Linked DNA regions of Homo sapiens: region 2 is linked to region 1. The links come from fine-mapping of genetic effects on gene expression. Tissue or cell type: whole blood. Region 1 holds a variant in brackets; the other region holds the start of a gene. All regions are shown on one strand. Distances are from middle to middle.

Region 1 (2,754 bases):
ATTATGATCTCCCCAACAGGCACCTTGTGACCCCCTCCCCTGCTGACAATAGCTAACCACCTTTCACTGTAACTTTCCACTGCTTACCCCAGTCCTATAAAACTGCCCCACCCCTATCTCCCTTGGCTGACTCTTTTTGGACTCAGCCCACTTGCACCCAAGTGAAATAAACAGCCTTGTTGCTCGCACAAAGTCTGTTGGTGGACGGATGCACTTGACAACCACCAGAAGGAATAATCAAATGCCCAGGAATTTTCTTTTTTTTAAATCATCTTTAATGTATTTTTAATAATTTTTTTGCCTCATTTACCAGATAAATCATCTAAATAAATAGATGCTATACAGTCTCTTACCAATGTCAGTACAAAAATAAAACCGCGCTCTACATCCACTCTGACTCTCCCAGCACACACACACTCAGCAAAGGCATGTGCTTGGAATCAACTCGTGCCCCCGACCCCTCCCAGATACATTCATTTAGTCTGAACAAAGCTCGAAGCTCATTCTGTGCAAAGGAAGCGCTCTTGTGCTGAGACCTGGTGGCCGCAGCTGGCCACTTCGAAAGCAAAAGCTAAACCACCTCACAGAAGCACAGCGCCTGCCCCCAGAACAAGGGGACAGGAGGAGCTTGGCAACGAGGTCATCACCCGAACAGCAGTGACAGTCCTGCATTCCAGGCGGCTGTGCCAGGGGTGGGGGTACCTCCTCCGCACCCCCCACCACAAAAGGAAAAGTGCCCACGGGTCTCTACATTCAAAGCGGGTGGGGGCTGGGGGAAAGAAAGGCAGATGGGCAAATGCTTTCTAAACCCTCCCCCCACCCCCAAGAGTACTGGCCTTTTAAGAGGGCTGCGGGGGTGGAGGTCACTGTCTGCCTTGCTCTACTGGGCCACTCTGGGCTGGAAGGAGGCCTGCACGGCCACAGCCGTAGGTGACCTCATAGAGGTCACCTGTCCTGGAGGATGGTCCTAACGGCCCACAGCCTTTTCCCCCAGGGAGCTGGCTCACTACAGCCCATGAGCCACCTGGCTGCCCTGAGCTGGGCACCTCAGGCCCACCCGTCCCAGGTCACACCCCTGGAGTTCAGCTCTCCCTGAGCCACGGAGTTCCCCATGGGCCATAAAGGGCTGAGTAAGAGGAAAGATGTGTCCTGCTGCTGCAGACAAAAGCAACTGCAGCACCCACACAGAAAGCCCCGTGAATCCACAGACCCACAGATTGCGCAAATAGTTCTTTGAAAGTGACCAGGAAGCAGGAAAAAGGTCCTATGTCCCCTGGGGGATGGGGAGCGTGACTTCTGCTGGAAGCTGCCAGCCATGTTCCAAAGTCATGGGCCAAAACATTCAACTAGAGACCCCCC[A/C]CAACCCTCTATCATCTTTACCTCCGCTGGGCACCCCTCTCCTGGAAGAGTCCCCTCTGAACCCCAAGCTTCCCCTTCCCCTCCACAGGGCTCCACAGCTGGAGATGGGTGGTGATTCCTGCCGCTCCTTGTCCAGACCCACCCCACGTATTCCTCTAGATTCCATTCCCTGGGCTGGAGGTGAATCAGGTCATCCCGGAGGGGACTGTCCCCCAATGGAAGCACTGAATTGACCGTGGACAACTAAAGATCGAGGAGGAAGGAAAGAGAGACTCAGGGATCTGGGAAGCCTGTCAACAGAGCACCCCATGCAGAAAGGGCTGCAGGCTGTCTTTGGTTTGGGAACCAGGGAAGAAGGGATTTGGGGAAAGAATCACCCTCTCCTTGCCTCAGTAGACTCTGTGACTTCCTGAGGACACAGAGCAGAGCTGCGAGGAGGGCGGGCAGGTCTCAAACTTGCTGGCCGCACTCCACTCTTGGTGTGTGTTACCCTGACTCTGACAGCCAAGGAAAGACAGGGGAGCCGGCCTTTTCCATGCTCCCCTTGGGCCCCCCAATCTGGTTTTGTCTCCCCTACAGGACTGGAAGAGAGGGAGAAGTCACTCCTCACTGGCAGGGAAGCCACGGGCCCCCAGGACACCTTGTACAAACCAGAAAACAAGTGCACCTTGCCAGGGGTGGGCTGGGGCAAAGCCTGCCCATCACACAGCACAGCCTGACCTCAGAGAGGCACGGCAGAGGTCCCTCCACAGGAATACAGCTCAGCCCCAGCTGTGGCATTTAGGTTGGATGGGGAGGGGATGCAGAATGGAAGGAGGAAGGGGCTTAGGAGTCAAGGGCTGCCCTGAGAACGTGGTGGGACACTCCCTCCCTCCCTGACTGCCCACACCTGGGTTGGCTGAGTTGGAGGGGAGGGCAGAAAAAGAGGGGAATTGGAAGGGCTGAAAAGTCACCTGAGTCAGAAAGAACAAGAACCCCTCACGGGAGGAAGGACAGGGTCCAGACGTCTCAAAGCCTGTGCTGATACATCACACAACTTAGCAGACGCCTGCACACCCGCAGCCTGGCCCGGTGCAGCCGAGAAACCACATCTGTATGCCTGGAGCATGGGGTGCCATCGCACCTGTGCCAGACCCCTGCCCTCCACTGAAAGCCGCAAGCAGGTAGCAAGGTGCATGCAAGGTGGGGTGAGTGCAGGTGTGGTGGTGAGGTCTTTTGTGCTGTGAATCACCCCACGTTCGCCTGGCCAGGGTTTCTAACCCAGGTTCGCAAGGCCCATGTGGACACGTCTGCAGCCACACATGCTTTCACGGGGCACATGGGAACGTACACGCGAAGGGTAATGCGTGCACACCTGTGCAGCCAGGTGTGCATGAGCGTTTCTGCACAGGCCAG
Region 2 (2,623 bases), 21 kb after region 1:
GAGATGCCAGGACTGAGTTTTCTCTATGGAGAAAGAAGATGGGCTGCCAATCAGCCCAGTTGAGCTCCTGCTCTACCTCCCTATCTAACTTGCTCGGTGACCTTGAGCAGGTCACTTCCTCTGCCTGGGCCTCAGTTTTTGTCTCTGTTAAATGGGAGGAGGTGACCCCCTAAGGCCCCTCCCAGTCGGCCTGGAGCCTCCCAAAGGGCTGCAGGGAGGAGGAGACAAAGGAAGGACAGTAGTGCGTACCAGGAAAGGAACTTCTCCCCAAGGATTTCCCCAGCCTTAGGCGAGCCCCCTCGCCAAACAAGTGCACGGGAGGTGTAGACGCCAGGCCCGGACAAAGTCTAGCCCCAAAGTGTGGGGTTCTGAAACCAGCAGAACAGACACCTCCTTAAATTGCAGGGTGTATGTTTTGAAGAAGGCAGATGGGGTAGGAGACTAGGGGATGCCCCAGCGCAGGGGGCGGGCTTCAGAGCCCTGGCCTGGGCTAGGAGTTGAGGTGGGGGTGGGGGCGGGGAATAGGGATGTGCTCGGGTGGCGTAGAGGGGGCAGGATCGGAAAAGGCCAAAGTCCAGCAGGAAAAACTTCAGAGGCCGGAGGAGACTTTTCCAAAGCTCCACTTACAACTTGAAAGGATTTGGTGCCAAGCGTCCAGAGTCCCGAGTTCAAAACCCAGCTCTGACCATAACGCGCTAGGCAAGTCCTTTCAACTTGGGCCTCAGTCTCCCCATATTTACAATAAAAGGGGAGCGAGGTGGGATGGCGCTGAGGATCCCTACGTCCGATCCTAATCTCCAGCTCAGGCAGGCTCGGCCGCCACTAGCATCCTGGAGCGACAACTTTTGTTCTACTCGCCCTACACGGTGGCAGGGAAACTGAGGCACGGGCTGGGGAGACGGGCCCAGCAGCGCAGGGCTGCCGGGGCCCCCGCGCCCCGCTTTCCCCTTCAGCCCCAGCGTGGAGGGAGCGGTGCTGGGGACGGGAGGGACCCCACTGGGGTCCTGGGAGCCGCCCCCGGGCAGCCTCACCTTCCGCACGCGCTTCTTCCGGATGCTCTCCACGGCGAACACCTGCTCGCCGATGGCTGACAGCTCCATGCGGGGCGGCGGGCGAGCGGGCCCGGGGCCGGGCCGGGCCGGGGGCGGAGCTGCGGGGCCGCGGCTGCGGCGCGCGATGCTGGGGCTGGCGGGGTCCCCGTCACCCTCGTCCGGGCGCGCACGCGCACGCGCACGCGCGCACACCCCCTCGCGCTCCCTCACGCCGCCGACGTTCCATTTTTGAACCTGCGCAACGTTTTCCTCGGCGCCAGCGAGCGAGCGCGCGCAAGGAGGGGGCGGGGCGGGAGCGCGCGGAACGGCCGCGGGCTCGGCTCGCGCCCTGAGGGTCAGCTCCGCCCCCGAGCCCCGCCCCCATCGGAACCCCGCCCCCGGGGCCCGCCCCCGCGGGTTGCGATTGGGCCGCGGGCCGCGAGCCGCGAGCGCTGCCGTGGGACTTATTTGGCTCGGTCACCGGCTGGGGCGGGGCGGAGGCTCGCGCGCCCCGTCTTGCTGTGACGCCGGGGCGGGACGTGATCCTTAATACCCAGGCGGGCGCCTCATAGCCTCCCGGTGACTGCCAGGGGCCGAAGTGGCAGGGCCCAGTGGAGCCGACGACAAAGTCAAGGCTCAGAGCGGGGAGGCCATTTGCTCACCTCCCGCAGCGGAGGAGACTGGGCCCGAGGCGCAGCCCCTCGAGTTGCAGGAGAGCCGGGACCCAAAAGGCTTCCCACCGTGTCCGGACGTCGCAGGGCCGAGGTCTCCCTAATCCGGCCTTCTCCGCGGCGCAGTTTGGCCAGTGTCTCCACGTCCGTCCACCCACCCCTCCATCCGCCCTTCCATTTGTCCATCCACCCGACCCTCGGTGGTCGGTGCCCAGACGCACGGGTCAGACGCGGGCGCTGCCTCGAGGGCTCCCGGGCCGGGCCCTCGTTCGCGGCAGGAGCGGCCGCGGTGGAGCTGAGGTCCCCCGGGGACGGATTTTGCCGCCGCGCTGCCCCAGCCTTCCCCAAACCCGCGTGTACTGGGCGCTAGGTGCTTAGTGGGGGCTCAACCATTTGTGGCACGAGACGAACTCTTGATTCCCCACCCCCCTTCCTTTTTCGCTAACGCGCCTCCATTCCTCACTGGGAGCCCGGCGTCGTCCCTGCTCCTTCCTGTACTGACCCCAACTTCTGTCGCTCCGGCATCCCCTCGGGGACTCGGGTCTGCCTGCCCTCACCGCACCCACCTCCCAGGTTCGCCCCGTCTTTTCTCTGGACCACAGCAGAGACCTCGCGGAGCTGCCCTCCCTCCGATCTCAGCCACACAGTGCCAGAGTGTGCTTCTAAAATGCAGATCTGACGGGGTCACCCTGTGCTTAAAAATTTTCCTCCCTATTTCCCTCACAATAAAATCCAACACCTCTTTCTGGCACATAGAAAAAGAGAATAATAGATTCACACCTGACTTTTCATCAAGAGCAACAAAGCCAGAGAGAAAATAACCATCATCTTAGAATTATATATTCAGTGAAAATGTATTTCAAGAATTATGTACCCAGTATGAGGCACATGTATCCAGAACGTAGGTGAAATCATAGCACT

What was found. PIP is the estimated chance that this variant, and not a neighbour inherited with it, causes the effect.
Region 2: CBX7 starts here. The variant in region 1 is fine-mapped to the expression of CBX7 in whole blood (INTERVAL, PIP above 0.99).

What each region holds. Positions count from the first base shown.
Region 1 is chr22:39,130,520-39,133,273 of GRCh38, forward strand. CBX7 (chromobox 7) reads right to left here. Exons shown (of 6, transcript NM_175709.5): 6 at 253-2,754. Among named protein-coding and RNA genes, the nearest start is that of CBX7, 21 kb to the right of the region's middle. RefSeq lists an enhancer at 907-1,468. The variant A/C (reference allele first, on the strand shown) is at 1,360.
Region 2 is chr22:39,151,345-39,153,967 of GRCh38, forward strand. CBX7 (chromobox 7) reads right to left here and starts at 1,336. Exons shown (of 6, transcript NM_175709.5): 1 at 1,032-1,336. The coding sequence starts at 1,100. RefSeq lists an enhancer at 914-1,495 and silencers at 953-1,002, 1,073-1,642.